Linked DNA regions of Homo sapiens. The protein of the gene in region 1 interacts with the protein of each later gene in a pairwise test. Each region holds a gene or a part of one and is shown in the gene's direction. Other genes may lie near its edges. The genes, in order: EIF3F, MKRN2, PRPS1, CASP6, POGZ, NUP54 and VEZF1.

Region 1 (2,508 bases):
AGTCTTTTTAAGTATGCATGATAAAATTCCGAGGTTAATTGCTAGAAGTATATATAATCTCTCAATGAATAGTGATGAGAGATGGTGGGATAATAGGGAAGAAACAAAATTTTAAATTTGAGAAATAAGCATAGAAAAGGTGGATAAAACAAAAGATGGCAAAACAAGTCCAAATAGATCAGTAATTACAATAAATGTATAAGTATTAAACTAGCCCAAGGAAAAATTGAATATTAAAACAAACCCCAATCATATGCTGTTTACAGGAGACACATCTAAAACAAGGACATAAAGTTGTCCTGCAGCTGTGAGTAACAATATAGGTGAATGTTAATAATAATGTTGAATGAAAAAAGCTGGTGTCAGAAGACATGTACATTATGATACTCCAGAAGTTCAAAAACAAGTGAAACTTGTTTAGACATGCGGTTGGCTGTCTGTATATGTGGGTTCCACATCTATGGACTCAACCAACTACAGGTTGAAAATATTGAGGGGGAAAATTGTGTCTGGACTAAACCTGTACAGACATTTTTCCTTGTCATTTTTCCCTAAACAATACAAAGTATTAGATGGTGTTTATACTGTATTCGGTATTATAAGTAATCTAGAGATGACTTAAAAGTATATGAGAAGGTATGCACAGGTTATATCCAAATACTTCATATTAGGGACTTGAGCATCAGAGGATTTTTATATCCAAGGAAGGTTCTGGAACCAATCCTCCACGGATACTAAACGGTGACTGTGTGTGTATATATATATGTATAGTCTGTTCTCATTATCTATAGTAGTTATGTTTTATAAAGTCACCATGAACACTGAATTAGAGAGTACTGAACCATTATTCCCAAGGGAAATACAGGGTTGGGTTCCTATGAACCTCTGGGCACAGTTTCATCAACCCATCAGTACATAAACTTGTTACATGTGTTTCTGTTTGAAGACACCTTAGTATATATGGTTGACCCATTAACACTGAACTTAGCCCACGACACTTATTCCTGAATGAAGCTTACCTCAGTTTCTCCAGGCGGCACATCACAGTCTTCTTGCACTTAGGAACACTTGGCACTGTGCGTGGGGGTCACTTTAAGCAGCAAAATCCACAAAAATGCAAAAGACATGGCACTAAATAGACTGAAAAGGATACTTGTTTATAAGAACTGAAACAAGAAGGCCTTGTTCCACCTCAGCTGGGAACATGGAGAGCAGGCAATTCAAATTTTTTCACATGCTGCATGTCCGCAAATGGCTGCAAAAGCCCAGCAAGTACTGATACTGGAGTTAGAAATAAATTTTAGCAAGAGGTAAATTCACACATACGGAGTCTGCAAAAAATGAGAATTGACTATTATGTGTGTGTATATTATATATATGATAAAAAACAAAAGAATGATAAAAATTCCCAATAATGTTTACTTTGGTGGTGAGAAGAGGATGGCAAGTAAAATAAGTCTGTATTGTTATCAGCAATTATCTAGTTTGAGGTTGGACAGTGGTTTCATCATAGGTATTGATTATATTATAAATAGCCCAACCTGAACTCATGACCATAGTGTGGTGTTATTACTTAGCGTTATTCTAGACTTATTAGCCATTGTATTTAAACAAGAGGAAATAGAGACATTGAAGATAAAGTGGAGCCAGGCACAGTGGCTCATGCCTGTAATCCCAGCACTTTGGCAGGCTGAGATGGGTTAATCAAGACCAGAAGTTCAAGACCAGCGTGGCCAACATGGCAAAACCCCGTCTCTACTAAAAAAAAACAAAAAATACAAAAATTAGCCAGGCGTGGTGGCACGCACCTGTAGTCCCAGCTACTTGGGAAGCTGAGGCAGGAGAATCTCGAACCCAGGAGGTAGGGGTTGCAGTGAGCTGAGATCGCACCACTGCACCCCAGCCTGGGTGACAGCAAGATCCTTTCTCAAGAAAAAAAGTGAAAAGGAGGAGGGTTTTTAAAAAATTAGTACTACCCAGTTGATACGGTGGAAGAAAACTTGAAAATGCTAATGAGAAACATGAGATGTAATCACTTGAAGGCATATCATGTTCTTGAATAAGAAGACTCAACATTATTTTAACAGGTGTTAATTTTCCCTGTTAAACTACATATTTGTCATAATTACAATAAAATACAAAGAGCTATTTTGGAACTGGGCAAGCTGTTTCTAAATGTATATGGAAAAATAAAAATGTCTCCAAAAAATCCCTGCAGAGGGAAACTAGCCCTTCCAGATATAAAATATATTATAGAACTGTGTAATTAAAGCAATATGGTACTGGTCCATAAAAGAACATAAAACCAAATAGTTCAGTAGACTCAAAATGCAAGCGTTGGTGAGGGTATGGAGAAAAGGGAACCCTTTTACACTTGGTGTGAATGTAAATTAGTACAGACATTGTGGAAAACAGTTTGTAGAGCTTCCTCAATAAAAACACATATGATCCAGCAATCCCACTACTGGGTATATATCCAAAGGAAATGAAATCAGTATGTTGAAGAGA
Region 2 (3,500 bases), on another chromosome or scaffold:
AATATTTTGTCTGGGTAAAGTGGCTCACACCTATAACCCCAACACTTTGGGAGGCTGAGGCGGGTGGATCACCTGAGGTCAGGAGTTCGAGACCAGCCTGGCCAACATGGTTTAGTAGAAACCCTGTCTCTACTAAAAATACAAAAATTAGCCGGGTGTAGTGGCAGGTGTCTGTAATCCCAGCTACTTGGGAGGCTGAGGCAGGAGAATTTCTTGAACCCGGGAGGCAAAGATTGTAGTGAGCTGAGATCACGCCACTGCACTCCAGCCTGGATGACAAGAGTGAGACTCCCTCTCAAAAAAAAAAAAAAAAAAAAGAAAACTAAATATTTTGCTAAAGAGCATGTTTCACTGTTTGACTTTTAGGCCAGTGAATGGTCTTAGTTTTTATGCTGACAGTGTTTGACAGTTTAGATTGCACCTTTGGGAAAAGAATAGCACACTAGGGTTTGGGGCATGGTCTGTGCCTTAAAACAGGGTTTGATGAGGAAGAAAGCTACAAATTGTAAAAGTTTTTTTGTTGTGTTTTTTGTTTGTTTTGTTTTTGTTTTTTTTTTGGAGATGGAGACTCGCTCTGTCGCCTAGGCTGCAGTGCAGTGGCATGATCTCCACCTCCCGGGTTCAAGGGATTCTCTTGCCTCAGCCTTCTGAGTAGCTGGGAATACAGGTGCCCACCACCATGCCCAGCTAATTTTTGTATTTTTAGTAGAGACAGTGTTTCACTATGTTGGCCAGGCTGGTCTCAAACTCTTGGTCTCATGATCCGCCCGCCTCGGCCTCCCAAAGTGCTGGGATTACAGGCAAGAGCCACTGCACCTGGCCATAAAAGTTGTTTTTATTGGCTGGTCCTCACCAGGTGAAGAGATTTCTAGTTCTTGGAATTGGCTACCATGAGGTAGGCAGATTCTGTCCTCAGCAAATGAGTAATCCTGTGAGAATACGTGACCTCTAAACAAGCTCGGAGGTGTGCAGTGGGAAGGCAGCAGCTCCTGGCGTGAGAAGGGGTGACCATGGGGCAGTTTACACTGGCCTCAGGACCCACAGATTTGCTCTAGACATCTATTCTAGTTCACTTAAAATGATTTTACCTTTGCTGGTATGAAGGAAACACTGTGTTCTAGTGCTCTCACTGTTTTTTTGTTTGTTTTAGTGTTAACTGGTCCATGTGTTAACATTTCCATATTTGCCATTTTAAACGGCTTTAGTGTTCTTTTGTATAAGTATATCCTATTGTTTTGCTATTTCCCTGTCTTGCCATTTTTGTTTTTTGTTTTTTGTTTTTTTAAGTAATTATAAGTAATGTCACTATGAACATTTTATACTATTCCTTTTATTTTTCCCCTTCGGTGTGTTTTTTTTGCCATATGTTCTCAAGAGTGGAATTCTTAGGTCAGAGTAGCTTAATATGTTAGGCTTTGGCTAACGGCATACCAGAAAAATGGGGCCATTTTCATGTGCATGTGTGCTGTGTGTTGTTTTCAGATCTCTCTGGCATGGCTGAAAGGAAGACCCAGCCGAGCATGGTGAGTAATCCAGGCAGCTGCAGCGACCCCCAGCCCAGCCCCGAGATGAAGCCGCATTCCTACCTGGATGCCATCAGGAGTGGCCTTGATGACGTGGAGGCCAGCAGCTCCTACAGCAACGAGCAGCAGCTGTGCCCCTACGCAGCTGCTGGGGAGTGCCGGTTTGGGGATGCCTGTGTCTACCTGCACGGGGAGGTGTGTGAAATCTGTAGGCTGCAAGTCTTGCACCCATTCGACCCAGAGCAGAGGAAGGCTCATGAAAAGGTAAAGTCACAAACCTTTGCATGAACTCATGTTAAGAAATCTGAAATGTACTGAACAGGACACGGAAGGCCATCCATATACACTCAAGAAATCTGAAATGTACTAAGTGACAGAATTGTTGGTATTTCCACAGGCATCCCCCTGCCAGTAATACCCATATTATGTATCTGGTATATTTACATCCTGTTTTCAGGTTCTTTTTCCTGCAGTCATTTTGCCATTTTTTTTTTTTAATGGAGTCTCCCTCTCACCCAGGCTGGAGTACAGTGGTGCAATCTCGGCTCACTGCAACCTCTGCTTCCCTGGCTCAGGTGATCCTCCTGCCTCAGCCCCACCGAGTAGCTGGGATTACAGGCGCCCACCACCACACCCGGCTACTTTTTGTATTTTTAGGAAAGATGGGGTTTCACCACGTTGGCCAGGCTGGTCTCGAACTCCTGACCTCAAGTTGTCCGCCTGCCTTGGCCTCCCAAAGTGCTGGGATTACAGGCATGAGCCACCATGCCCGGCCTATTTTGCCAATTTTTAATTACTCAGAATAAAGAGAAAAAGAAGTCGTATCTGAAATATAAAATCATGCTAAGTTCAAAGAACAGATCTAGCTCAGGACCATGGTATGTCGTCTGTGTGTATGTCTCTATCACATGCAGATACAGCATCCTCCCTCCCTGGGTTCACACTTCCTCATGGTTGGGATCCAGCTAGGTGAAGTTTTGGAAGATTTGAGCCCAAATCATAGAATCTGAGGAGCCACTTGTTGGAAGGGCCTTTTAAAGTCATTAATGTCTGCAGTGTTTTGGGAGGCTTTGCCTTATGCTAGGCCCTATGCATGATGCAGAGGGTACGAAGCTGGATAAGAGGCGGGGGAGGGCCAGGCATGGTGACTCACACCTGTAATCCCAGCACTTTGGCAGGCCAAGGCAGGCAGATTGCTTGACCCCAGGAGTTTGAGACCAGCCTGGGCAACATGGTAAGATCCCCGTCTCTACAAAAAAAAAAAAATACAAACATTAGCCAGGTGTGGTGGTGCACACCTGTAGTCCCAGCTACTCGGCAGGACTGAGGTGGGAGGATCACCCGAGCCTGGGAAGCAGAGGTTGCAGTGAGCCAAGATTGTGCCACTGCACTACAGCCTGGGCAATAAGAGTGAGACCCTGTCTCAAGAAAAATAATAATAAAAAAATTTAAAAATGCCAGGTGTGGTGGCTTGGCTAACTTTTAAAATTTTATTTTATTTTGGCTGGGCACAGTGGCTCACGCCTGTAATCCCAGCACTTTGGGAGGACGAGGCAGGCGGATCACAAGGTCAGGAGATTGAGACCATCCTGGCTAACATGGTGAAACCCCGTCTCTACTAAAAATACAAAAAGTTAACTGGGTGTGGTGGCGGGCGCCTGTAGTCCCAGCTACTTGGGAGGCTGAGGCAGGAGAATAGTCTGAACCCAGGAGGTGGAGCTTGCAGCGAGCTGAGATTGCACCACCGCACTCCAGCCTGGACGACAGAGAGAGACTCTGTCTCAAAAAAAAAAAAAAATTATTTTATTTTTCAGAGGTGAGGTCTTGCTATGTTGCTTAGGCTGGTCTTGAACTCCTGAGATCAAGCAGTCCTCTTACCATGGCCTCCCAGAGTAATGGGATTACAGGTGTGAGCCACTGCACCTGGCCTAAGGCATGTTTAAATGGACAGCGTATTCCTAGATAATCAAGAGGTAA
Region 3 (3,008 bases), on another chromosome or scaffold:
TGTTGAGTACTCTTATTTTTTTTTCAGATTTTCTTATTTTTTAAATTTATATTGTACTAAGCTACATATAACACAATTTGCCATTTTAACTATTTTAAGTGTATAATTCCATGACATTAACTATATTCACAATGTTAGACAACCATCGCCTGATCATCAAAGTTTTTTGATCACCCTGAGTATGCTACATGCGATTGTTTTTTGTTTTAATGAGTTAAAATAAAAATCCTGAGCAGACAGGTGTGTGTGCTCATATTTTTATTTTACCTAAGCCGGAACCCTTGGTCTTACTTCTCGACTGTTTTACCGGCTGCTACTTTTGTTCATTATTACTTCTTTTTTTCACTCTAATCCTGTGATAGGTTAATGTTTATATTACTTGTCATCTCTTGCCTGCAGTGTTCTAAATTGCCTCCCCACTCTGTTCTCCATTGCCAGTCACCGTTCTCTCACCTCCCCACTCCATCTCTCCATGCTTGCTAATCTTCCTGCAACTGAGGCTCGATCCCATCACTCTTTAAGATTTTAAGTGGCCCCTCATTACTAACAATCCAAGCCACTATGAGCAGCATTGTTTCTTAGAATGGTATTTTTACTTTTATTTTTATTTTGAGACATGGTCTCACTCTGTTACCCAGGCTGGAGTGTAGTAGTACAATTACGGCTCACTGCAGTCTTGAAATCTTGGGCTCAAGAAATCCTCCTGTCTCAGACTCCCGAGTAGCTGGGACTACAGGCAAGTGCCACCACACTTGGGTAATTATTTATTATTATTATTATTATTTTTGTAGAGAAGGAGTCCCACTATGTTGCCCAGGCTGTCCTTGAACTCCTGGGCTCAAGCAATTCTCCCACCTCAGCCTCCCAAAGTGCTGGGATTTCAGCTGTGAGCCACAGCACCCAGCCCTGAGAATGGTTTTTTTAAACTTTCTTGTGTCTGTGCCTTGCACAGTGCCTGGCACATAATAGGTGCTAAAAAAAAATTGGGGTGAATGATTCTTGGTTTGGGATCCTGGAGTAAACATTCATAAAACCCATTTCATCCTTGTACAAGTACGGGAATACTAGTCGCTATAACAGATCAACTCCCTAACATGATAGTTTCCTTCTTGTCCATGGCACACTCCAATGCAAGTGTTCTTGTTGGACTCATTTTTTCTAAGCAATAGTTAGGAGCTCAGATTCTTTCAATCTTTGGTGCTATATCTTTAACATGGGGTTTCCAAGATTACCTTGGAAGACATTTCAATTTTGGCCAGCCAGAAAAGGAAAAGAACACAGAGGATCACCCCTGGAAGATTTTTGTTAAGTCCAACCAAAAACTGATGTACATTGTGTCTGCCCACATTTTAATAGCCAGAATTAAGCCACATGGCCACACTGAACTATGTGAGGGAGGCTGGGAAATGTAGTTCAGCTATGTGCCCAGAAAGAAGAGGAAGTGGATTTTGTTAAGTGCAACAGTCTATGCCAGAGTCCTTTGACACTAATTCAGACCTATTCAGATAAGTTCTTAGTGCAGTTCTTTCTCGATATGGACTGAATTGTGTCCTCCCCAAATTCATATATGTTGAGGCCTAACCCCAATGTGATGGTATTTGGAGTTACCTTGAGGGGCACGTATTTAGGATTAGATGAGGTCACTAGGGCAGAGCCCTTACAATGGGATGAATGCCCTTATAAGAAGAGAATGCTGGAGAACTGGCCAGCATTTCCCCATGCGCACGCATGCGTGCACACACACTCACACTCACACACAAAGAGGTCATCTGAGCACACAGCAAAGTGGTGGCCACCTACAAGAGAAGAGGCCTCAGCATGACACCTACTTTGTCTGCACCTTGATCTTGGACTTTAAGCCTCCAGAACTGTGAAAAATTTGTTTCTGTTATTTAAGCCACCCATTCTATGGTATTTTCTTTTCCTTAAAAAAATTTTTCCCCTAACCCACTGTGCCTTATAATATTTTTTATTTTTTTATTTTTTTTCATATGATATTTTGTTGTGGAAGCCTAAGCAGGCTAATATACTCCTCCCTGACTAAAATTCTGCAATGACAAGTAAGATGAATCCAAATCAACATTTTTTCCCTCTAGACTTCTCTCAGCTGGCGCCACCAGAGTTTATGCCATCTTGACTCATGGAATCTTCTCCGGTCCTGCTATTTCTCGCATCAACAACGCATGCTTTGAGGCAGTAGTAGTCACCAATACCATACCTCAGGAGGACAAGATGAAGCATTGCTCCAAAATACAGGTGAGGATGAGATTTGTGCAAAACAAGACTTTTCTAAGTGTTTAGGAGGTGGTTACTTACGTTGAATTAGGTCTCTGGATTCTGAAGATATCTTTCTTTGGTCTGAAGGATTTAGTCTTGTCATCAGAATTTGTGATCCAAAAGTTAACAATCACCTGTTTCTTTTCCTTTTTTTTTTTCTTTTCAAACTGCCAAGCCTTGGGAAAATCACCTGTTTAAAAGTTTAAATTGCTACACCTCAGAATCTCTGGAAGATGGAGCCTAAGATTCTACATTTTAACAGGTTCTCCCAGTGATTCTGATGCAAATTAAAGTTTTCAAGTCCATACTTTACAGTATGTGTTTGTCTGTTAACTATCGGCCCCTGTAGATATAATGTGAAACCTTTAAACTGATTGTACACTTCTACCAACTTTAGTGTTTCTCAGTGTGCTCTGGACCTAAGGTTCTTATTAAAATGTAGATTCCTTTGCTCCATCTAAGACCTATAAAACCAGAGGTCCTGGAACCAGTATTTTAAAGTAATTCCCCAAGTAATTGTTAGAAACTAAAGTTTGAGTGCTCTTGCACTAAAAGAACAAGGCCTTGCTTAATTAAAAATGTTCACATTAATCTATGAGCTTTTTGAAATTAATATGTGTAATTGGAGGATTATCATCTTTTTTTTTTTTTTTTTTGAGATAGGATCTTGCTCTGTTGCCCCAGCCGGAGTGCGCAATCAAAGCTCACTGCAGCCTCAACTTTGAAGGCTC
Region 4 (3,500 bases), on another chromosome or scaffold:
GGCGTGGTGGTGGGAGCCTGTAGTCCCAGCTACTCGGGAGGCTGAGGCAGGAGAATGGCATGAAGCCAGGAGGCGGAGCTTGCAGTGAGCCAAGATCAAGCCACTGCACTCCAGCCTGGGCGACAGAGTGAGCCTCTGTCTCAAAAAAAAAAAAAAAAAAAAAACTTGCCTGAGTTATTTTCCTTACTCTGTTCTATTAAATGTTGACAGGCTTTTGCATTTGTACTAACATTTGCATAGTAGACAACAACACTCTAAATTGAATCGGCTGTCATTATGATTAAATCCTTTCCGACCATGGTGAATGAAGGGAAAACCACCATTGTTATATTTCATTTCTTTTCTCCTAAAGAAAGCAAATTTATGTGTCGTTAAAATGTGTATAGATTCTTCCAAAGTAAGGGTATTTGACAACTTTGAAAAGTTTATAGGCTAACATTTCATTTAATATACCACTAGGTTTTCAGATCTAGGATTTGAAGTGAAATGCTTTAATGATCTTAAAGCAGAAGAACTACTGCTCAAAATTCATGAGGGTAGGTAGTTTTGCTATCATATAGTTCATCTTCCTCTAATGAAACCGAGTCCTTTATCCTATCTGTAAAGACAGGTACAAGTAATTACTTGTGTGACAAAAAAAGTATTAATTTAGCACAGGTTACAGGTTTTGGGTATGCTGCTGTGTTTCCGTTACCCAGCACATTTAGAGACCCTTGCAAATAATTATGCCTCTAAAGTTTATATTTAGCATACCACTAGTTACAGTCTCTTGTAGAAATGAATGAAATGACCCCTTCAATTGGCAGTAAAAGCCTAAAATGCAAGTACTACAGGTGCTGGGCAGTCAACAGGCTCATTTTCTCATTGACTCCTTTCATGCCTCATTTTCTCACTGGTTTCCAAATAGTGTTGGTTTACATACATTACCTCCTTTAATTCTCACAGCGTCAATAGGGGGTAGGTATTCTAATTATAACAACCTATATTATAATCATCGCTGCATGCCAACCATTATATTTGCATAATTACTTTAAACTTTCTTCAGAGCTCTTCTTTAAACTGCACATCATTCTAACTTTGGCTGCTTTTACCAGCTTTTCTACTTTGCTCAGAAGCTTTGGAGGACATCAGTCTCATGGCACCGCACCTGGCTTTGAGTACTCTTTTGGAAGCTCTAAGTGCTATAATCTTTTTTTTTTTTTTTTGAGATGGAGTCTCGCTGTCCGCCCCAGGCTGGAGTGCAGTGGTGTGATCTCAGCTCACTGCAGCCTCCACCTCCTGGGTTCAAGCAATTCTCCTGCCTCAGCTTCCCAGGTAGCTCGCCCCCATGCCCAGCTAATTTTTGTATTTTTAGTAGAGATGGGGTTTCACCGTGTTGGCCAGGCTGGTCTTGAACACTGGCCTCAAGTGATCCACCTGCCTCGGCCTCCCAAAATGCTGGGATTCCAGGCGTGAGCCACTGCGCCTGGCCCTAAGTGCTGTATTCCTATAGTGAAAGTGCAGCAATGCGTGGGGAGCTGTTGAGCAGCAGTTTCTGGGTCTTTCCACTCTGCTCTAAGGTCTCTGCTGATTCAAGGAAATTTTTAGTTTATTGCCAAAATAACTTGGATCTTAAGTGAGATTCCCTATCGTAATCCCTTTATGTTTTCCACATCATTCTGTGTTTTAGAAAGGCTAATGAAATTTGGTCAAACTCTATTACTCTGAACTTTAATAAATTTGGATTTTTTTAAAAAAATAAGATACAGTACGGTATATTGTTTGATTAAAGACTAAGTTGTTTCATCACAGATATTTTACACTTATTAAAGAGTAGGCCGGGCATGGTGGCTCATGCCTGTAATCCCAGCACTTTGGGAGGCTGAGGCGAGGTGGATCACCTGAGGTCAGGAGTTCGAGACTAGCCTGGCTACATGGCAAAACCCCGTCTCTACTAAAAATACAAAAATTAGCTGGATATGGTTTCAAATCTGTAATCCCAGCTACTTGGGAGGCTGAGGCAGGAGAATCGCTTGAACCCGGGAGGTGGAGGTTGCAGTGAGCCAAGATCGCGCCACTGCACTCCAGCCCTGGGCACCAAGAGTGAAACTCTGTCTCAAAAAAACAAAAAAGACAAAACCACAAATTTTCCTCCTCCCCAATCATGTGGATGTAACTTTATTCTTGTGTTAATAAACTGAATTTTTATGTGTAGATAACAAGCATCATATTTTCATTTCTATATTCTCTTTTGGGTCCTTTATAGTGTCAACTGTTAGCCACGCAGATGCCGATTGCTTTGTGTGTGTCTTCCTGAGCCATGGCGAAGGCAATCACATTTATGCATATGATGCTAAAATCGAAATTCAGACATTAACTGGCTTGTTCAAAGGAGACAAGTGTCACAGCCTGGTTGGAAAACCCAAGATATTTATCATTCAGGTAAGACTGAGTACATTATCATCTTAATTATAAAGTCTGTCATTCTGAACATGTGATAAAGGTCTAAAAGCCAGTTTTGAAAGTAACTTTCTCCAGTAATTGGACAGGCCGTTTTTGAATTCTGGCCAATCATAGTTGCACTTTGAGCTGTTAGTAATAATTCTTTGACACTCTCATTGTCTATATTACAAAATAACAGCATTTGGATTGAGATTTGAAGTGACTCACAAAGTAACCAATGTGCTACTCCCTGTCCGAGCCTGATACCAAGGAGAGCCATTGGAAAGCGTACCTGCTGATTGAAGAGTGCCGCACAAGGCAACCTCATCAGACTAGGTTTGCTTCTTTGGGAGGTGGAGAGCATATAAACCAGTGGAAAGAATGGAAAAATAAAGCCTTCTAGTCTTATCCTGTCTCATCCCTTTCACATTGCCCCTTAAACCAAGATTGTTTCCCCGCTGCCAAATTGGTTTTAGGGATAAAAGTATTTTTTACAGGCGTGATGGCTCACACCTGTAATCCCAGCACTTTGGGAGGCCGAGGCAGGCAGATCACCTGAGGAGTTCAAGACCAGCCTGGCAAACATGGTGAAACCCTGTCTCTACTAAAAATACAAAAATTAGCTGGGCATGGTGGCAGGTGCCTGTAATCCCAGCCATTCGGGAAGCTGAGGCATGAGAATTGCTTGAACCTGGGAGGCAGAGGCTGTAGTTAGCCGAGAGCATACCACTGCACTCCAGCCTGGGCGTCAGAGCGAGACTCTGTCTAAAAAAAAAAAAAAATTTTTTTTTTTGCATGAATATTACTTGGCACATCATTAACGATTTTTTTTTTTTTTTTGAGATGGAGTCTCGCTCTGTCCCCCAGGCTGGAGTGCAATGGTGCAATCTCGGCTCACTGCAACCTCCGCCCCCAGGTTCAATTATTCTCCCACTTCAGCCTCCCGAGTAGCTGGGATTACAGGCACCTGCCATCATGGCTGGCTAATTTTTGTATTTTCATAGAGATGGGGTTTCACCATGTTGGCTAGTGTGGTCTTGAACTCCTGACCTCAGGTGATCTGCCCGCCTTGGCCTCCC
Region 5 (3,500 bases), on another chromosome or scaffold:
CAGTAGTTTAGGTGAGAGATGATAGTGGCTATTGGCTTTTGAAATAAAAAGAGGGTAGAGTTGAGAGATATTCAGAAGATTTGTGATATTTATGATGTAGAGATGGATTAGGTGAAGGTAGCAATGCAGTAGTTAAGAATAGTGCCTAAGATTCTGTCTTGGGCAGTTGGGTGAATGAGGGAACTATTTGCTGAAATAGAAACAATAGAGAAAGTATATTTGTGAGGGGGGAGATCATGAGCTTGGATATTGTAAGTTAGCAGTATCTGTGGATGTCAAGTGTAGCTGTTGGATAATAGATCTCAAGCCTGTGAGAGAACTCTGGGTTGTAGAAAAGATTTAGGAATCAGCGTTATATAAATCCTATAGATTTTAAACTTAAATACCATGGGCCCCCCAACCCTGTTGAGAATAAGAGAAGGCTTAGGATATTTGAAGTCCCTTATCTATAAAGCAACCACCATAGTACTAGGAGGAAAACCAGAAGAGTCTTAACCTTAAGGAAACTGGGGAGAAGAAAGTGTTTTAAAGAAAAGGGTGTGATCAAAATGTCATATGTTACAGGAAGGTGTCAAGCAACATAGAGACTTAGAAACAGGCCTTTAATTTAGCAACATTGATGAGAGCCATTTTGTTGGTTGGTAGGGTGGAAGTCACATTTCAGCAGAACAAATGAATGAGAGGTAAGGAAATGAAGACGATGTATTTAAAGAAGTTTATTTATAAAAAGGGAGGACCCAGGGTAGGTAAATCCAGAGGAAGAAGTGGCAAAGAAGAGTTTTTTATTGCTTTTATTTTCCTTATAAGATGAAAAGCTATGACTTCGTTTTAAAATACTACAAGAAGAGAGCCACTAGAGGAGAGTGAAAGGTATATAGTATATAAGAGAGGATTCAAAATGGAGAATAAGATGAGTGCATGTGTGCTTAATAGTCACATACATATGCACACAAACATATGTACCCTATTACACTCATAGTCTCCTTTGCACAGTAGTGACTGCTGATTGTCTACCACAACTGTATTTCCAAATAGGGGCATGGAAATTGTCTCTTAGCCTAAGCTTACAGAGCTTTGTTATCCTACTAAAGAAAATCATAGACATGGGTTCTATTTTTGAAGGACTTCAATACTAGGCAGACTGAATCCTCAAAGTGGTCTCACCAGGAGACATATCTGTATATACTGATGTGTTAAGTGAGAAAACAGCAAGGTATAGACAAGTGCTATCATTTGTGTTAAAAGGAGAAAAAGAAGAGGGCTGAGGTGGGAGGATCACTTGAGCCCAGGAGGTGGAGTCCAGCCTGGGCAACATGGTGAGACAACATCTCTACAAAAAGGAAAGGGAAAAAAGTAAGGGCCAGGCACAGTGATGCACGCCTGTAATCCCAACACTTTGGGAGGCCAAGGCAGGTAGATCACTTGAACCCAGGAGTTGAAGACCAGCCTGGGCAACATGGTGACACCCCGTCTCTACAAAAAAATACAAAAAGTAGCCGGGCGTGGTGGCACGTGCCTGTAGTCCCAGCTACTTGGGACGTGCAGTGAGCTATGAACATGCCACTGCACTCCAGCCTGGGCTACAGAGAGAGACCCTGTCTCAAAAAAAGGGGGCGAGGCAGGTAATGATTGGATATGAATGTATTTGTGATACAGTTATATGTGTAGACTGCCCACGAAAGCATACTCAGGAAACTGGTAATAAGTTGTTTGTATGGAAGGGGACTGAGTGTTGGAGTTGAAAGCAAAGTTGGAAGAGTATAGAAAAAAAAGTATGACTTTAGTTTACTATGTACATTGTCCTTTTTTAAAAAAAGAAGAATGAAGAATGTCCAGAAGAATGTCCAGTTGTCAGCAGTGTAAAGATATAATACAAATAAAGGTTACATCACTCATTCAAATTGTTAAAACAAGTCAGGAAAGGATGATTTGAGAACTTAGTCATCCTGGACTAGAATCCATCTTTCTTTGATATCATGGGAGGTGATGATTCTCAATGGTAGGTTTTGTGGTCATGTTGCATATTTCTTTCTTACTCTCTTAAATTATCAACAGAAAGGTGGGAAGAATGATATGGTTGACATTGATCTGCTTTCTCCTCAAAAAAGAAAATTTATTAGGAACCTTTAAGGGATTTTGTCTCTTTTTTTCCCTCCCCCACTTCAGAAGAGAAATGTTTATCACTGCAACAAATGCCGGCTGCAGTTTCTCTTTGCCAAGGACAAAATTGAACACAAGCTTCAACACCATAAAACCTTCCGTAAACCCAAGCAGCTGGAGGGCTTGAAACCAGGCACCAAGGTAAAGAGTTTGCCAGTGTCTTTTATAGGCCCAGGGAGGGAGGAATAGAGATTTTCAGTATTCTGAAATTTAGTGTGGGTGATGTCTCATTGTTACTTCCCTTGGTTCTCAGGTGACAATCCGGGCTTCCCGAGGGCAGCCACGAACTGTTCCTGTATCCTCTAATGATACACCTCCCAGCGCCTTGCAGGAGGCAGCACCGCTGACCTCCTCAATGGACCCTCTGCCTGTCTTCCTTTATCCCCCTGTCCAGCGCAGCATCCAGAAGAGAGCTGTTAGGAAAATGTCAGCGCCTTCTTCTAAGTGCTGGGCGGGTGGGGACTGGGTGGCCAGGATTATTCCTGATACACAGTGCAATCTGGTAGCTTTTTAGCAGGGTTTGTTGTCTGAAAATCCTACATTTTGGGGACCCATGAGGCAGTAATGAGAATTCTTTTTTTTTTTCCCCCACAGGAGTGTCATGGGCCGGCAGACATGCCTGGAGTGCAGCTTCGAGATCCCAGACTTCCCTAATCATTTCCCTACTTACGTACACTGCTCTCTGTGTCGCTATAGCACCTGCTGTTCTCGAGCTTATGCCAACCACATGATCAAGTAAGTTGGTTTTTAACCAGTGTTTTAGCTTGAGAGTTCAGATTCTTTTTTTCTTCTTCTTCTTCTTCTTTTTTTTTTTTTTTTTTTGAAGACAGGGTCTCACTCTGTCCCCTAGGCTGGAGTGCAATAGCATGATCTTGGCTCACTGCAACCTCTGCCTCCTGGGTTCAAGTGATTCTCCTGTCTCAGCCTCCCAAGTAGCTGGGATTATAGGTGTGCACCACCATGCCTGGCTGATTTTTTTGTATTTTTAGTAGAGACGGGGTTTCACCTTGTTGGCCAGGCTGGTCTCAAACTCCTGAGCTCAGGTGATCCACCTGCCTCGGCCTCCCTAAAGTGCTGGGATTACAGACATGAGCCACTGCGCCCGGCCCCAGCCAGATTCTTGAGCACTCATTTCATTTTCTCCCCTGCTTCTAATATGTTTCCTCCTTCAACTCTTAGAGCTATTTGTTCTTCTCTCCTAGCAGAGTGAGAGGCTCTGTTTTTTCGGTTTTGATGGTCTGTGCTCTAATTTCATAGGGCCTTGCTATTCAAGTACCAGTAGTATTAGGTGGGAGCTTGTTAGAAATGCTGACTCTCAGCCCCGCCCTAGGCCTACTGAA
Region 6 (3,500 bases), on another chromosome or scaffold:
GTACAATTGGGCAGAATAATCTAACATCAAGTCCATCTTATAATAATAATAATTTTATAATAAAAACTAAAAGATCAGAATTCCATGTATGGTTTACATGTATGTATATATGAATGCGTATTGCTTTCACACCCTATAAAATGGAAAAATCATAAGTTGAGAATCTGTATAGTGAAATAAATTATAATTAGTTGGTGATTTTTGCAGTCACTTTTATAATGACATGCAGATGGTTCAGAAACAACCAACAATAATGAATATCAAAATTTTTTAGGGGAGAAAGCTGTTTAGTTACTCTCTCAAAGAGGAAATGTTAATCTTACTCTATAGGTTAATGTTATTCCTGGGTAAAATAGTTTTTCTTTATAATTTTGTGACCTCCTAGGGCACAAAATGGTGGGAAGAATCATTATTCCCTTAATTACCAGACATTAAGTTGTTTTTCCCATTTTAGCAGATATTAAGCTATTAATATTAAACACCTGATTTAAGATCTGTACATATTTTTTATATTGTTTATTTTGTCATTCCACAGGCAGTAGGTTATAGTTGCATGCCCAGTAATAAAGATGAAGATGGGCTAGTGGTTTTAGTTTTCAACAAAAAAGAAACAGAGATTCGAAGCCAACAACAACAGTTGGTAGAATCATTGCATAAAGTTTTGGGAGGAAACCAGACCCTTACTGTAAATGTAGAGGGCACTAAAACATTGCCAGATGATCAGTAAGTATACATAAATATACTGTTTATTTCTGTGTATTTATTTCTGGTCCTAAGGGAGTGATCAATAATGTTTTTGTTGCTAAAGCACAAATTAACTCTCAGAGCAGAATGCCTTTTCTCAGCTAGTGATTATTCAGTATTGATAAAAACATTTATTTAAAAGTTTTTTTAAAATTTTGGATTTTTTAACTTACTAGATGCTAATAATTTTCTAGATTTTCATTCAGGCCAGGAAGGGACCATTTGTCATAGATGCGTGCAAATTGAGGGCCATAAAGATGTTATTGGAAAATGTTATTAACTCATTACTGTTCATGTTCATTCATGAATAAATATTATTGCTTTACTTCCCTTGACCTAAGTATAATTCTCAGTGTTAGTGGCAAGACATTTATTTTAGGATATTTGGAGGAATGATTATTAATGAGATGCAATAATTGAACAGATTTTACTTGTGGTTGTAATTGCAGAGAAGCAGCCCATAAATTTCAACAGAATTTCCTATAGTAAATAACATTTACATAGGATTTTGCAACTAAGCAAACCCTTTTATAAATATTATCTTATTGGCCGGGCACGGTGGCTCACGCCTGTAATCCCAGCACTTTGGGAGGCCGAGACGGGCGGATCATGAGGTCAGGAGATCGAGGCCATCCTGGCTGACACGGTGAAACCCTGTCTCTACTAAAAATACAAAAAAAATCAGCCGGGCGTGGTGGCAGGTGCCTGTAGTCCCAGCTACGAGGGAGGCTGAGGCAGGAGAGTGGCATGAACCCAGGAGGCGGAGCTTGCAGTGAGCCAAGATTGAGCCACTGAACTCCAGCCTGAGGGACAGAGAGAGACTCCGTCTCAAAAAAAAAAACAAATACTATCTTATTTACCTGGTTCTTTTTAACTTTATCATTTAGGTTGATTTGTAAATGAACATTACATGAAGTAAAACTTTCTTATTTTCCAAGATTTAAGAAGAAAACAGTTGGGCACAGCAGCTCATCATACCTGTAATCCCAGAACTTTGGGAGGTCAAGGTGGGAGGATTGCTTGAGACCAGGAGTTTGAGACTAGCCTAGGCAACATAGCGAGTGTCCGTCTCTCAAAAAAATTTAAAAATATATATATATATATATCATATATATTTATGTATAGACACACATACATGTAAGCTAAACGTAGCGGGTGTGCAGCTGTACTCTCAGTTACTTGGAGGCTGAGGTGGGAGAATTGCTTAAGCCTGGGACATTGAGGCTGCAGTGATGATACCACTGCACTCCAGCCTGGGCAACAGAGCAAACCTTGCTCAAAAAAAAAAAAAAAGGAAACATTTTAATTGCCTCCTAAAACAACCATTTCTGAATTCAACTTAAACCCTTCTGAAATCACATGCTATGATATGCTGAGGTTTGTCGCTATGAGTTTTGTGCTCCATATTTTATAAATTGGTTATTCTTCCTTCAGGACAGAAGTTGTTATTTATGTTGTTGAGCGTTCGCCAAATGGTACTTCAAGAAGAGTTCCAGCTACAACGCTATATGCCCATTTTGAACAAGCCAATATAAAAACACAATTGCAGCAACTTGGTGTAACCCTTTCTATGACTAGAACAGAACTTTCTCCTGCACAGATCAAACAGCTTTTACAGAATCCTCCTGCTGGTATGTTTCTAGAATCACAGAGTTCAAAAAAAAAGAAAGATTTAGAACTAAACACTCCCCGTATTTCAGAGGTGTTGGTTGGTTATTAATGCTAATAAAATTAGTATCATCTTGTCATATATCTACTTATTTGGGAAATAGTTTTGAATATTTGTATTCATTTAGTTTTTTATTATATAGCTAATATGTATATGTTAAAATAGAAATTTTGAGAAATAGTGAACTGAAGAAAAATAGTCCATAATCCATCTACCCAAAGGTAATTTACTAGTAAAATTTTGGCTTATTTTTTTCTAGCTTATCTCATTTTAACTGAATATTCAAGTAAAACCTGAATGTATTCTAACTGTAAAATATTCTGGATGGCATAACTAGATTGACTATGTGATAGATTACCTTTAGTTCCTTTCCCCGGAAGTAACTACTGTCAATTTATGGTACTATGTTTAATCCTTTATCTGTGATTTGAAATGTAAGCATATTTACATGTAGATCTTTTAAAAAAGGATTCTCCATATACACCTTCAGCTTGCCTTTTTACAGTATTCCTTAGCACTTTTCATGTCAATACATGAAGATAAATCTTACTGTATTTAAACATTGCATAGTATTCCATGGATACACCTTTACTTAACACCTCTAAGTTGTTTTCTTTTTACTATTATAAACTGTACAGTAATTAACAATATCCTTGTAAACATGTCTTAGAACACATTGGTATATATTTCTTTAGAATAGATCTCTGGTAATGAAATTTTTGAGTCAATATTATGTATGTTAGATATTGCCAAATTGCCCTCCAGGGAAAGTTCTACCGTTTATATTCATAACAGGAATGTTATTTTTTCTGGCCACTGATGGCAAAATAATTAATTTAAAAATTAATACTTATTTTTAATATGTTTATTAGCTACATTTATATTTTTTGTGAGTTACCTATTTGTGTCCTTTGCCCATTTTCTAGATTTTTTTGTCTTCCTTTTTGATGTATAGGAACTCTTTCTATATTCTGGAGGTTAATCTATTATCCTATAGGTTATAGATAGTTCCTTTCAATCTGTGCTTTTTTTGAACTTTATTTATTCTGCAAAAATTTGTATTTTTACCATGATTATATTTGACAGT
Region 7 (3,500 bases), on another chromosome or scaffold:
AATGTTTCAAGTGCAGTTAACATAACCAGCCCAATGAACATAGGGCATCCTGTAACTATAACCAGTCCATTATCCATGACCTCTCCTTTAACACTCACTACCCCAGTCAACCTCCCCACCCCCGTCACTGCCCCAGTGAATATAGCACACCCTGTCACCATCACATCTCCAATGAATCTACCCACACCTATGACATTAGCCGCCCCTCTCAATATAGCAATGAGACCTGTAGAGAGCATGCCTTTCTTGCCCCAAGCTTTGCCTACATCACCGCCTTGGTAAACAGTATTATAAAATCAAAATATGGGTAAAAGTAAATATTTACCAGCAACTTAACTTTTAGTTGATTAAAGCAAAAAGTAAACCATGAAATTGGGAGATTTTATTACATTAGTTAATAAGAGTGTGGTAGCATTTTTCTCCAATTTGGCTGGGATTATTCAAAGTAGGGTGTGTATGTAACTTATCACTGGACCACTTTAGTTTAATCAGAAATTCCTTTTAGCTGACAACATTGCTTAAACAGGATAGTAGTTGGCAAGATGAAATGCCAGAATTAAAACCAATCATAAGTAGAACCCACTTCAAAATAAAAAAACAGCATTACTATTTCTAATCCCAAGGAATCACTTTATTGTAAACACTAGCAGAACTCTTCTCCCTATACAAGGTGGATGGCTGATTTTAACCTGAAATTTTAAATCCACAGATTGAGAGCTAGTGTAGAATTGTCTGTGTTTATTGTTTTTATGAGTAAATACATGCATTGTCATAATAAAATGCATTTCAGAGAATATGCATTTTACCTTTGGGAATATGTTAATTTCAGGCAGCATTCCCTATGGGAAAGGTGATACCAGCTCTGATATGCAAAGCATATGATAATTTATCATTCTAACTTCAACGTATAATAGGGATTGTGACCTGATATTTGGAGATGTAAATATTGCTCAGCATATTAATCCCGATGGAATATAGCATTGTAGTTGACTTTTTAAAAAAAAAAAAAATTTAAAAAAAATCTACAAATTGTGTTTTGCTAAGAAAAGCCTCAACTGACAGAGGAGAAGTCAAGTGTGTGGACAGGCAAGCTCCTAATAAACAGAGTCCAGTGGGATTCCTATTTAGGAGCCAAGGAGTACTTTGGAACAGTACAAATATATTGCTTTAAATTGGAAGACGCTGGAGGCACTGGGATGTGATATGCCCCTCTCTCTCCCAATCAGAGCCTGTTGATATTACAACAGGGACAGATGTGTTAGTTGCTCACTAGAGTTTATGTCTTATATTAAATTGTATACAGTTTTTATTCTAACCACTAACTAGGTAGTGTATGCCCCTTCAGAACATGCAGAGTGTATCTTTTTTTAAATTTCTCCTTCCGTTTCTTAAGTATTGCGCAGATTTGTTCAACTTTGTAAATATGGACATCACTTTTTTTTTCTTTGAGAAAACACTTGTATCAGCTTTGTGGTGTTTTCAGGGAGACAGCTGTCTGCATTCCCTGTAGAAACCCAGCAATGATTATGCACGTTGAGACATGTGCTTTTTATTTCTTAGCAAGATATTTTATCTCTGTACATAAAGTAGAAACCAAAAGCTAGGGAAACAGATACTCTTTACACCATCATGCCACGCATTGTTTTTAAAGCATTGCGTTAAAAAAAAAATTAACTAAACCAAGATGCTGTGATTTTTTAAGTTGCAATATGTTTTTGGTTTTTTTCATTTTTTAATCATTGCAGTTAAGAGAAATGGAAATTAGTTGTGTTAATCTTGCAGAATGTTTGCAGGACTGACTATCAAACTGGATGATTTCCATTTATACCCTACTGTGTCAGTTCAAGCATCAAAATACCTTGCATCTGAGACAGACTTCCTACATCAGGGACAGGTATCTGTGTGTCATTATACAAAACAGTTCTAGGGGGTTGAACTACATAGTAAAAAAATAAAATAAATAGTACTTAGTGTAAAATAATTTTATAAATGATCTTTTGTACTTTAGGACATTAAATTGTACAACTTTTGTATATATAAAAGCTTAGGAACTTTCTGTTTAGCAGGAAGGCAACACATTCCTACACTTTTAATGTATATGTTTGTTATAATGTCCATGTAAACATGCCCTATGTTTGTGCCTTTTAATTAGTTTGTCTCAATAAACAAAATGTAGAGAAAAATATGTAGCTATGACTTTGTTACAACTGTTCTTATCCACAGTACAAAAATGGTTTGTTTTTAATATGTAGAGCATTATGTGTGGACTACTGGAAGGACTCGTGTAGGGAAAGCCCAAGAATGACCTTGCTGAGGCCTGGATTGGGAGGCACAGTGGCCACATTTGGAGGAAGTTCACATTTCCTGGCATGCAGACCCAAAACTGGGTTCTGGCTCTGCCTGCTGGGATCTGTTATCTCTGGTGGGCTGGCAGTCATAATTCACAATTCAGACAGCCCAGGCTTCCTCCACAGTGGTCCAAGGAGCAGTCCTCAGTGGGGGCAGGTGTGGGCCCTACCCCTAAGCTAGAATGTGGTTGTCAGAACCCTGAAAGTATTAGTTCTAAAAAAAAAAAGATATATACTAGAAGTAATTGTTTTATCAATTCATTGTATAATAAACAGGAGTGAGACTTCATTGTATGACTTCAGTTAAAATACTATTTTGTATGCATTCTTTATTCACTTAAGAAGCTTGTCTGCAATAATAAAGCCACGTCATGTCTTCTTTTGGGAGGGAGAGAGTCGATGGCAGGAGGGGGTTTTGGGTGGGCCACTGAAAAGGGGTACCGAATAGGTTGTGTGATGAAATTCTGTGTCTTGGAACTGGAATTGAGTTTCGATGTTGATGAACTGATTCAACCAGGTGTTGAAGGCACGACAGCCACTGCTCTACGAAAAGGCAGAGTACGTTTTTCCCTTCTGGTTGTAACCTGGTTGAGAGCTTCCCCTTTATCAGATTGGCAGCTAAACAGTTGTATTAGATAATCCTTAAATCTGACATCCAGCCTGTTACGCTCTAGGGCTCGCTGCTTGGCCTGCGTTTGCTTTTTATTGTGTATCCGTTCCCCTCCTACGGTGTGCTCCTGAATGAAGGTTTCTATGTAAGCAGATGATGATTTTACCTGTCAATACCAGCACTGTATTACTAACATGCAAAATACTGCAGATTTATTTTGAAAATTAAAGTTAACTGGTCACAAATGTTATGATGGATTGTTTAATACCTCAGAAGCTTCATCAGTTTGCTCTGATAATAGAGGAATTTTTCAAGTACTTTCTTTTCAGGTGCGCACATCTCAGTATTGGGTTGGAGAGAGAGGGAGGGACCAGTATCAGGCTGGTTGGAGGGTGGAAGGGCACCAGACTGACTGCCCTTGGTAGGTGCACCCTCCCAAGCAGCTCAGGTAAGGCCCAGGAAGCTAGGATGGAGGCAGTGGCCACAGGTTTAGGTCCCTGTCCTACCCAAAAGAGAAGATGGGTTTAAAACATTTCTTCTCA

What was found.
Region 2: the proteins of EIF3F (region 1) and MKRN2 interact in binary tests that used the Homo sapiens proteins (3 or more experiments, as listed by UniProt).
Region 3: the proteins of EIF3F (region 1) and PRPS1 interact in binary tests that used the Homo sapiens proteins (3 or more experiments, as listed by UniProt).
Region 4: the proteins of EIF3F (region 1) and CASP6 interact in binary tests that used the Homo sapiens proteins (3 or more experiments, as listed by UniProt).
Region 5: the proteins of EIF3F (region 1) and POGZ interact in binary tests that used the Homo sapiens proteins (3 or more experiments, as listed by UniProt).
Region 6: the proteins of EIF3F (region 1) and NUP54 interact in binary tests that used the Homo sapiens proteins (3 or more experiments, as listed by UniProt).
Region 7: the proteins of EIF3F (region 1) and VEZF1 interact in binary tests that used the Homo sapiens proteins (3 or more experiments, as listed by UniProt).

Annotation. Positions count from the first base shown.
Region 1 is NC_000011.10:7,997,337-7,999,844, forward strand, and holds part of EIF3F (eukaryotic translation initiation factor 3 subunit F), read left to right. Parts: 3' UTR 1-2,508. UniProt on the Homo sapiens protein: Component of the eukaryotic translation initiation factor 3 (eIF-3) complex, which is required for several steps in the initiation of protein synthesis.
Region 2 is NC_000003.12:12,570,587-12,574,086, forward strand, and holds part of MKRN2 (E3 ubiquitin-protein ligase makorin-2), read left to right. Parts: intron 1-1,482; coding exon 1,483-1,787; intron 1,788-3,500. UniProt on the Homo sapiens protein: E3 ubiquitin ligase catalyzing the covalent attachment of ubiquitin moieties onto substrate proteins.
Region 3 is NC_000023.11:107,645,510-107,648,517, forward strand, and holds part of PRPS1 (ribose-phosphate pyrophosphokinase 1), read left to right. Parts: intron 1-2,096; coding exon 2,097-2,256; intron 2,257-3,008. UniProt on the Homo sapiens protein: Catalyzes the synthesis of phosphoribosylpyrophosphate (PRPP) that is essential for nucleotide synthesis.
Region 4 is NC_000004.12:109,693,446-109,696,945, reverse strand, and holds part of CASP6 (caspase-6 isoform alpha precursor), read left to right. Parts: intron 1-459; coding exon 460-536; intron 537-2,245; coding exon 2,246-2,421; intron 2,422-3,500.
Region 5 is NC_000001.11:151,407,495-151,410,994, reverse strand, and holds part of POGZ (pogo transposable element with ZNF domain), read left to right. Parts: intron 1-2,166; coding exon 2,167-2,301; intron 2,302-2,413; coding exon 2,414-2,586; intron 2,587-2,754; coding exon 2,755-2,895; intron 2,896-3,500. UniProt on the Homo sapiens protein: Plays a role in mitotic cell cycle progression and is involved in kinetochore assembly and mitotic sister chromatid cohesion.
Region 6 is NC_000004.12:76,131,398-76,134,897, reverse strand, and holds part of NUP54 (nucleoporin p54), read left to right. Parts: intron 1-535; coding exon 536-723; intron 724-2,178; coding exon 2,179-2,375; intron 2,376-3,500. UniProt on the Homo sapiens protein: Component of the nuclear pore complex, a complex required for the trafficking across the nuclear membrane.
Region 7 is NC_000017.11:57,971,255-57,974,754, reverse strand, and holds the end of VEZF1 (vascular endothelial zinc finger 1), read left to right. Parts: coding exon 1-282; 3' UTR 283-3,203; downstream 3,204-3,500. UniProt on the Homo sapiens protein: Possible transcription factor. Specifically binds to the CT/GC-rich region of the interleukin-3 promoter and mediates tax transactivation of IL-3.